2 separate regions of the Homo sapiens genome follow, and region 1 is linked to region 2. The links come from fine-mapping of genetic effects on gene expression. Tissue or cell type: lung. Region 2 holds a variant in brackets; the other region holds the start of a gene. All regions are shown on one strand. Distances are between the middles of the regions.

Region 1 (5,384 bases), 17 kb after region 2:
TCAGTATAAACTATTTTTGTTCAATATTACAGTGAATATAAATGTTATATATAATCAATATAACATATAAGTACTAAAACCTTTTCCTTTACATGCCTTCTTTCTTTTTTCCACTGAGTACTTGAAAAAACAACTCTTGCACATCTTCTAGGATTCAGCCCCATGAACAGGAAATGTGATTTAACAGCACTTAAGCTTCTGAGAGTTAAATGAATCTGGCTATTGATTGCTTACCAGCATTAGGTGGGTTATCAGAAATGTATGCTGTTAATTTGGCTGGCAATGGGATTGACAGTATAACAGCACTACCACCGAAAGCAGCTTTGGTTTTAATCTCTAGAACTTTTGTACCAAAGCAGCTTGGATCTGCCAGGGATTTGTGTTTTAAAGGGATTATGTTAAAGATTATTAAAGTTGAACCCTCAAGGGACAAGGCTGGATATTCATGCTAGAAATGCAACTCCGGATCTCTACCGGCCAAGTCACTTCTGAATGTTTGAGGATTCCTGTCACACTCTAAGTTGCTATGAAAGTGTAGACTGGCTAAAGAAAAATCTTCCTTAGGAAAAGGCTGATTGGGAGTTGGCAAGGCAACTATAAACAGGACCCAGCCTTTCCCATTTTAGAACATTCAACGAGTCTAAGAGCTGGAAATGGAACGGCAGAATCATCTGAATACCTAAAAGTTAAGAAGATAGCAAAAGTGCACTTCATTAATTAAAGAAGATAAAATCAAGAAACAGAGTTGGGGGATGGAGCTAGCAAAGAGCTAAAGAGGCCTTCATTCTGTGGTCAGTGGAAGCAGTGTCAGATGGGTGAGATGGCCTGAGGCGGCCTCACGGGGCTGAGGGCGTTGAACAGGTCCAGGCAGTCCTCCAACCCTGAGCTGGACCAAAGGGACTGGCTGCACAGGCTGAATAAGAGGCACTGCCCACAAATCAATTAAAATATTTCATAATTAAGAAAAAAGCATTTCTAAAGCACAGTGCCCCAGGAAAGGAATTTGGAATAAGCCCAATAATAAAACAAACTGGACCTCTATTTGAGCTACTATCCTATGTGGAAGTGCTGGCTGTGTCATGAGCTCCTTCCTCAAGAGAAAACCTAAGACCTATGCAGGGCTCTTCCTAGACTGCCAGTAGGATGACACATTCAGGTGACATGAATCACAGAGGAGGGAGGTACTACCAACCCCCCTCCCAACATGACACATTTACATATTCAAAAGATGACAAAAAATCAAGCTCCGAGTGCTTGCAATTCATTTGGAAGAGATAAGGCTAGGACATAGCCGAACAATACTTCAAAATACTTATTAAGCAATAAATAACCAGCTGCAGTTGAACGCTCTCTAGATTCCACAGTCTAGTTTAATCCTATTTCAGCCATTTAGATTCCTGCATAAGAGCTCTGGCGCGTAAAATTCCAAGTGGGGTAAGACACAAAAATTTCCAAATATATGCCTTGATAATACTTTCCTGAAATGGAAATGTACTTACTACTCTTATTGATTAAAAGAGCAGATTGAGAGCAGTCTAAATATCCATTATTGGGTCTTCTCATATAAATATGATGTATTCCTGTTTTGTTTGTTTGTTTGTTTGGGTTTTTTTTTTTTTTTTTTTTTTTTTTTTGACTAGAGAATGAGGAAGCTCACTATGGACTGATATGGAAGGAACTATGTATCATTCAGTGCTCAAACACAAAAGTAGAAACCTCTCTATATATCTCAAGCAGAGTAGGATGGAACACAGGAAATTGGTTAAAAACTACTGGAAGGACTGAGGAGCAAAAAAAGAAGGGGCTCTTACCCAAAGAGGCTGGGAAGCTGCCACTGGCCCTTGGCTGAATCCTGTCAGGGATACTCAGTGTTGATCTTGCTGAAACTATCCCCGGATTGCTGGAGCCCAGAGCACAGGCAGTCCAGGCCAGCTGGGGAAAATGGCTAATCTCCTCCTCCCACACTGGAACCTAGCACCAGCGCCTCCCATGAAACCAGCTGGATGAGTGAGTCTGGGAAAGAGGATGGAGGATTATCCAGAAGGGTGGACTTGGACTTAAGAGTCAAGAGACACAATCCAGCACATCCACCCTTTTGCTACTCAGCATCCACACATTCCATTGTACGCACCCTACAGCAACATCACACTTCTTCCTCACAGAATGCAATTTTATTCCTCACACAGATGAACACAAGTTCACTCTCTCCCTAAAACAGATAATTCAGAGTAAAACCCTGTAAGATAGTGGCCTCAGCCACTGTATTCATCCCAGGGTGATGTTAAATTTTTTCCTTTCAGACACCATTGCACCTTTTATAATGGATGTTCTACAACCTAAAGGCTAAGTTGTAAAATTAACCACCAACACTCAGTGTTATGCAGAGTAAACAAAGAAGAAAATGTGCATAGCTGCTACGGGTTTTGTTTTGGTGACTGGTAACAAAACTAGTTGACTGATGATGATAATAGTTAAATAATAATTGAGAATGAACTTCTTCCAACGTCCATTCCATCTTCCTTTTACCTTCAGCCAGCAACTGAAGTTAGTTGTCTGGGGTTCTTTTCTTGGCAAGATTATTGAAACCTTCATTTTTGAAGGGTCTAAGTCTTTAGCTGTCCTGCAGGTTGCAATATTATTCCAGAAACTTTTACTCTTGGACATGGAAGTGCTAAGAGGCACCCAGGAGAATTTCCAGGGCTTCAGACATAGTCCTCTCTGCCACCATTGTGTGTCACGGCAACCCAATTACTCCCTGGTAATAATTCTGTTCAGTCACCCCAGCCAGAAAAGTAACCCTCTTCTTTGCCTGTCCATTTAGTGGCAGAAGAAACTTGAAATGGGCAGACAGAAGTATCGAATTCCAGTTCAGTGGAACGTTATTGTTTCCCCTAGAGGAAGCGTTCTCTCCTAGGAATCAAGACCTTTAAACCAGCTGATCTATGTTTTGTAGAAGGAGGGCAAATATTCTGTGAGTGATATTCAGGATGTGATAGTGAGAGTAGCCACTCTCATTTTTACCCCTTGACTCCCAGGTCTGTGTATCCTGACTATGAGAGACATAGCATCACTCATTTGCTGATTCAAAGCATAATCTACGTGCAGTAAGAAAGCCACCTAGACTGCAGGCAGTTATCTTCCAGATGGTACCATTTTTGAAACTTCAGTTATCTATTTCTAAATTTTGTAATGATAACTACCTTTGGGTGCTGGAGTACATGGTAATCCAATAAGTCCCATGGGCATGATACCAATGCTGTACTACTTTTGCTGTAAAATTAGTTCTTTGGTCACAAGCAAAGAACTTCTTTGGTCATAATCATCATGCTATTAAATAAGGCTCTGTGTTAAGTTCACAGATGGTGGTACTGATAAACCCACTGCAGGCAGTGAATGCACAGCATATTTAGAAATAGTGTCCCAGCCTGGGCAACATAGCGAGACCCTGTCTGAACAAAAAAATTTTTTTTAAAAAAGAGCTGGGCATGGTGGTGAGTGCCTGTAGTCCTAGCTACTTGGGAGGCTGTGGCAGGAGGATCACTTGAGCCCAGGAGTTCAAGGTTATAGTGAGCTATGATTGCACCACTGCACTCCAGCCTGGGTGACAGAGTGAGACCCTGTCTCTATTTAAAAAGAAAGAAAGAAAAAATAAATAGTGTCTATTCTAGAGGACAAAATCATGTCCTTCATAATAGAAGTTCCATGCAATAATCTGATGGCTGACTGGTCCCCCTGGGGAATGACTCCACATCAGAGACTCAGAGATGGTAGAGCCCCTGTCAGCAAGTTAGTCATTTATCAGTGACAGGAGCCAGACCAGTTTGATGAGGGGAAGTCCACATTGTTGAACTCATGTCTGGCTTCTCTCCCTGCCACAATGGCCATGCTCTTCATGAGCCTATTAAGCAAGCCTCGGGGTTGCTGGAAATGGACTGACTGACATCCACAGAACAGGCTATCCTGTCAGTGGACTGCTGAGGGCCTCATCAGTGGATGCCCTCTAATGAGAATTCATATGTGATAGTGCCCATAGGGAAAGGTCCATCTGCAAACCTTTTTCCTAGACTTCGTTGTCACCAGTATGCTAATAAAACCATTAATGACCCATCAATTGGTATATATCTCGACTTCTGGCCATCTCTCCCTCCAGATAACATGCTCAGTGTTTGGTCCTGAGAGAGCTCCTCTTACCACGTTCCTGATTTGGGCTGCAATGCTTCAGCAGTCCACATCTACCTGGTGCCTGCAAACTGCAAGGGACCATCTGCGAACCAGGCCCAAATGTTTTCTTAGTCTGTCAACAGTCAATCCTAAGAGGTCACAGATGTGGACTGATGGTGAATTAAAATTGCAGCAAGAATAGATGCTATGGAAGTCACAGCCACTTGCTCTTGAAACTTACTTGTGCCTGAAGGACCTGCTCAAACCGAACCTGGTATATACTATTTTACTACTTACACCTGATGATGGATTTCTGCCATGCATGCCTAACCTTATGGCTCAGAGGACTGGTGTATTAGTTGTCTGAGTTTCCTGAGTAATAAATTACCCCAAAACTTCACAACATGCATTTATCATCTTACATTGTTTCTGAGGGTCAGGAATCTGGGAACAGCACAGTTGGGAGAATCTGGCTGAGGGTCTCTCACGAGGCTGCAGTCCAGTTGTCAGCCAGTACTGTAGTCACCTTAAAGCTTAACTAGACCTGCTGTAGCCCAATGATTCTCACCTTAAAGCTTAACTAGACATGCTGTAGCCCAATGGTTCTCAAATGGGGGTGATTTTGCACCCCAGAAAATATTTGGCAATGTCTGCAGACATTTTCAGTTCTCAAAACTATGGGGAGTGATGCTACTAACATCTGGTAGGTGGAGGCCAGGCATGCTATTAAACATCCTGCAATGCACAGGCCCGCCCCACAGCAAAGAATTGCCTGTCCCGTAAATGTCAATAGTGCCAAGACTGAGAAACCCTGCTCTCTCTTGAGCCCTTTTTTGCACTGGTCCCTAGACAAAACTTGCAGCGTAGTAGGTAACTCACAACATTGCTCTGAACAATAGACTCTAAAAGTGTTTATGTTACCTCAAAAATAAAAAGACCCACAGAATATTATAGCTCTTCTTCGTGATAGGTGGTACAAAGTACAGTAATTTGTCTTTCACTTTGGAGAGGAAATGCCAATATTCTCCAGACCACACTGGACCCCTAGAATCTTCACCAAAGCAATAGGCGTTTGATTTTTCTTGGGGATCATCTCCCACCCCCTGGCATACATTTGTCTTATTAAGGCATGTACGATATTTGCTCCTTGCTGCTCATCATGTCAATTACACATCAGCAGGATGTTCTGCAGGATACCAAGATGGTCCAGGCTCCTGCAGACT
Region 2 (5,384 bases):
TCTGACTTCTGAGCCCAGGCTGTGAAGCACTGTGCTATCCTTTGTTTGTCCTTTGTTAGCTGCAGCACTGGTTCTGGGGGCAGGATGACCTTTAGCTCTTGGGTATTCAATTTATTGGTGTTCCGGACCATTGCTGCCAAACTCATTTCCAGTTGAAGCAGCTGGGTTTTGTCACACATATGACTTTGTTAAGTGTCCTCAGCTGAGCTGAAGCTGCACAGAAATCACTCATCAGATTCCTGCCAGGGCCAAAGATATGGATGAAAATCTGCAGGAAGAAATGTCTAGCCTGGGATTGCGGGGCGGCAAAAGTTTCCCTCTGGAGTCCTATGAAGGGGTTCTTGTCACACATGTTTACTTTCAGTTTGTGATAAAAAGTGGGCATGCTGGGTTTCCAGTTGCAAGCTTCTACACAAATGGTAGATGGGTTTCACAGTCATTGCAGTGAGGCACAAATGACCATTGATCAACTGCAGCAAAACACAAAAGTTTCACATTTGCATGTGAAAGAGTTAAGTCTGGTCCCACATCTGCAAATGGGATCTGCCTCCCTCACTGTAATATGTGAAATACAAAAATACAGAAAATTATGTTTATATCTGCAATAATTTTTTTCATCAATAAACCTCAGAGGGCTATTGAGAGGTGAATAAAAATGTTCCGTGACTAAGCTGCAAATTTCAGTTCAAAGATAAGGAATGATTGAGTAGAGGGTTTGATTAAAAACACCACACCGGTGTTTGCATCAGAAGTCAGGGTTCTAGCTAGTTATCTCACTTAACAATTGTGTGACTTGGACAAGCCACTGAATAATTCCAAATAGCTCAGTCATCTCAATGCTCATGTGAATGGTGCTCCCTGTAGTTGTTCAGTGCACAGCTTGTATAGCTGCGAGCTGCAAGGTAAATATCATCTAATAGTGTTAATCCTACTTACTGCACGTCAAGGTTGTAAGATGGAGGGTGTTGGGATATAGGGGCAGATTTTCAATATAATAAATGTACTATCCAAATATACTTTTTCTGCCTCAGTTTCCTTCAGATTGAGACAAGTAGAAGAACCCAGCCTCTTAGGAAGGGCCTTGTGAAGGTGACCTTTAATTGCTGATCGTGATTCTGCAGCTAGAAGTTACTGAAAGTGATGTCCTTTTTGCATACGTTTATTCACTTCATGCACTGGTACCTCCTGTCCATTCTCCACATATGGAACGAGACATCTCAGGCCAGGCTGACCTCTCCTGCATGTAACTTCCCAACACTCAGTGTCAGTCCTTGCCCTTTTGGCACTGAATCATGACAGCTTCCCGTTTCCCTCTACTTGGAATATTAGCTGACGCTAGAGGCTTAACGAGTACAGAGACCAGTCCCCTTTTGCTGATTGGATCTCATCATTAGAGATGTTTTAGGAATGCTTTATATCACCCAACAAGGGCTTGGGTTACGTAGGTGTCTGCATTTGTCAGAACTGGTGAGTCTACACTTAAGACTAGCGCATTTCATTGTATCTTAACTTGACTCAAAAGAAGAAAATCTGTAAACACATGTTGAACTCTGATGAATAATGTGATGCTGAAGTGTGTGGGGGAAGTGCACTACATGCCCATTTTACTTTGAGATGTGTCAAAAATATAAGATGGATTAGTGGATGGGTGTGGGATGCATAGAGGCACCCTTATGTGAGAAAGCAAGTAAAGTGAAAGTTCATGACTCAAAATCGTCACTATATGAATTGTTTTCGAATTTGCTATGTTTTAAAATGTTTTATAATCCAATATTAGGAAAAAAAAGAATGTTCTAACTCTATGCTGCTCAAAACATGACTTTCTTTCATTTCAAGTGTCAAGTTTTTTGTTTTGTTTTTTTTTTTTTTGTTTTTTGGTTTTTTTTTTTAAGAGATGGGGTCTCATTCTGTCAACCAGGCTGGAGTGCAGTGCATGTGGCATGATCCTAGCTCACTGCAGACTCCAACTCCTGGGTTCAGGTCATCTTCCTGCCTCAGTCAAGGATGTTTTTGGTTTTTTAATTTTTTTGAGAACCAAAATTTCCCCTTCATTACTGATAAAGGCTAAAATGGAAGGTATGGCTCAGTGTGAGGGACAATTGGGCTGGCTAACTGAAGGGTGGAATTAAGTAGACAATCCACCCCATTGCAGGCAGACCT[C/G]ACATACCCCAGAAGTAGTGGGCTGGAGGTGGGCCTCACCAGGTAACACTTGCAGTGCAGCACTCTCAACTGCGGGGAGCAGGCAGATCACTCTCTAGAGGAAAAAGACAAGGAATAATTTTCAATTTTTACACTCATGAGAAAAGAATACAACTTTGCGTAAAATTAACTAAGCTTTAAAACTTTTCTACCTTAACATGCCTGTTACAAAAGCCATCAACAGCCAGATAGGCAGCTTGTCCAAAGGCATGCATTGGGAGAATATGTTCTGTATTTCATGTGAGTTTTAAATAGAGTTTAATCTGAATGAAAACTTTCCATGTATTTAGAATATCCATTTCTCTAAATTTCCGTTCTTTTACTTTTTCTTTTTAAGGTAATTATTCGAGGTGGAGGACATATTTTACCCTATGACCAGCCTCTGAGAGCTTTTGACATGATTAATCGATTCATTTATGGAAAAGGATGGGATCCTTATGTTGGATAAACTACCTTCCCAAAAGAGAACATCAGAGGTTTTCATTGCTGAAAAGAAAATCGTAAAAACAGAAAATGTCATAGGAATAAAAAAATTATCTTTTCATATCTGCAAGATTTTTTTCATCAATAAAAATTATCCTTGAAACAAGTGAGCTTTTGTTTTTGGGGGGAGATGTTTACTACAAAATTAACATGAGTACATGAGTAAGAATTACATTATTTAACTTAAAGGATGAAAGGTATGGATGATGTGACACTGAGACAAGATGTATAAATGAAATTTTAGGGTCTTGAATAGGAAGTTTTAATTTCTTCTAAGAGTAAGTGAAAAGTGCAGTTGTAACAAACAAAGCTGTAACATCTTTTTCTGCCAATAACAGAAGTTTGGCATGCCGTGAAGGTGTTTGGAAATATTATTGGATAAGAATAGCTCAATTATCCCAAATAAATGGATGAAGCTATAATAGTTTTGGGGAAAAGATTCTCAAATGTATAAAGTCTTAGAACAAAAGAATTCTTTGAAATAAAAATATTATATATAAAAGTAATGATGAGTCAATTCTTGATAAGCAGATGCTCTTATGCAGAGAACAAACTTAATCTTTGCCTTTTCATTTTCTTTTTCCTTCTTTGAGTTTGAGGTGTACACACTTCTGAAAGAGCCTGCAGGCTACATTAGTTATAAGAGCCATTTTAATTTGGGCTTCAAATTCTCTACTTCTTTTCCCCAAATAAAGAACAACCTAATTTTGTATCATTGTTAGAATATCAAAAAAAATTAAGATAAGCTGGCATCAATATATACATTTATAAATATACATTCATTAGCAGTTTTCTGACTAAAATGTCACATCCTGGCACATCTTTTCGATTTATGCATCATGTGCTCACATCTCTGAAATTCTACAAGACGTGTGGATTTTTCCACATCACTTCCTTCTCATATTACCCATCTATGAACTGGCTCACTGGAGAATTAAATTTAAAAAGTCAAAGCCTGTTCTTGCGGCAAATAGTTTATGGAGTTTATTCTTTTAATTTCTCATGTTGTGCCTGATTACGTTCAGGTTTGTGATCTTCCTTTTTAAATTGTTCATTGTACCCATGTCCTAGAAGTCATTAAATCAAATATTCTGATCAAAAGCAGATTTTAATTATTGCAGAGAATAAACTGGGACAGGGTAGGACGCAAGAAGTTTTTCATATAGCCCCATCTGCAAGTTAAATTAGCTGTATTTAGTCTCATAACTATGTACTGGAAAGGGCACTGACTGGCTGGGAGACCTGGGTTTAGTTTCATATGGATCACACATGCACTGGACGTTTTAGGAGAAGTCACTTCACCATACCAGCCTCCCAAAAACTCAAGGAAGGTAGCCAGAAGAGGAGACTTCTGAGGTTCTTTTGGGTTCACATGTCACTAGAGTAGTACCTATTTACAAGGGTACTATGAGATGATCCAGTTTATCCTCATTATTTCAAGAATTCCATGTTTGCAAATGGAGTCTACTTGCTAAAAAATGTATTTGTAACCCCAATATCAATACACTTGCTCTTTTGAGGTCATGTACAGAGTGGCAAAAAATTTCAGTTGCCCAACATATACATTCCCAGCTGGGGTCAAAGAAGGAGACGCTCTGCCTTCTTGTTTCAGCTTTCATACTGTAAAAAATCGTCTTTTTTTTTTTTTTTCTTATTAAGACGGAGTCTCGCTCTGTTGCCCAGGCTGGAGTGCAGTGGTGTGATCTCGGCTCACGGCAACCTCTGCTTCCCGGATTCAAGCAATTCTCTTGCCTCAGCCTCGCAAGTAGCTGGGATTACAGGTGCGCGCCACCAAGCCCAGCTAATTTTTATATTTTTGTAGAGATGGGGTTTTGCCATGTTGGTCAAGCTGGTCTTGAACTCCTGATCTCAGGTGATACTCCCACCTTGGCCTCCCAAAGTGCTGGGATTACAGGTGTGAACCACCACACCCAGCCCAATTGTCCTTTGCTAAGTCTGTTTAGTGCCACATTTTTTTCGCATTTTTGTGCTTTTTTTGTGGCTGATTTTGCTTTTTAAAATGGCCTCAAGCACGGTGCTGAAGTACTGACTAGTGTGCAAGAAGACTGTGAAGCGACTTACAGAGAAAATACAAGCAGGTATTTTGTTTTTTTCAGGCATGAGTTAAAGTGCTGTTGGCCCTGAGTTCCACGTTAATGAATCAACATTTTAAAGGTGACTAAGAAACACACTTAAGGTTATGTATTGATCAGGTGACAAGAATGTTGTGACCCACAAGCTTGAAGGAACCTAAACCTGTATTTGCCTTAGAAGCAATGGTTCAGAATTTGCTAATTCTGTCTGCATAGATGTTACAGAACATAGCTACAGTGGATAAAGAGAATTGATATCTTTCCAGAGCACTTAGCATAGGGAATAGCACAGGATAATGGCTCAATACATGGAAATTGTAGATGTTTTCATTTTTATCATCACCCTGACCCAGGTACTAGGCCAGTGGGGAGCGCTGAGGTGGCGGTGGGGGCAGAAGTTGGCAGACTTTCCAGGGGCAACCCTAGCCAACTCATTTGAGGATACAGTTCTATGAAGATTGAATCTGGCAAGTATTTTACTTTAGAAGAAGAAAGGAAAAGATTGAATCTGGCAAGTATTTTACTTTAGAAGAAAGGGAAACTAAAGAAAAACTAGTTTTTGGATTTAATTGTAGAGAGTCCTTTGTGTAGAGACTCTCCAAGTACAGT

Evidence for each region. PIP is the estimated chance that this variant, and not a neighbour inherited with it, causes the effect.
Region 1: it holds the start of CPVL-AS2, and the variant in region 2 is fine-mapped to the expression of CPVL-AS2 in lung (TOPMed, PIP above 0.99). The same link has a PIP of 0.9 or more in spinal cord.

What each region holds. Positions count from the first base shown.
Region 1 is chr7:28,976,526-28,981,909 of GRCh38, reverse strand. CPVL-AS2 (CPVL antisense RNA 2) reads right to left here and starts at 1,943. Exons shown (of 5, transcript NR_038965.1): 1 at 1,812-1,943.
Region 2 is chr7:28,993,035-28,998,418 of GRCh38, reverse strand. CPVL (carboxypeptidase vitellogenic like) reads left to right here. Exons shown (of 13, transcript NM_031311.5): 13 at 2,537-3,184. The coding sequence ends at 2,647. It overlaps CPVL-AS2 (CPVL antisense RNA 2), which reads right to left. Exons shown (of 5, transcript NR_038965.1): 2 at 2,168-2,254. Among named protein-coding and RNA genes, the nearest start is that of CPVL-AS2, 16 kb to the right of the region's middle. The variant C/G (reference allele first, on the strand shown) is at 2,161.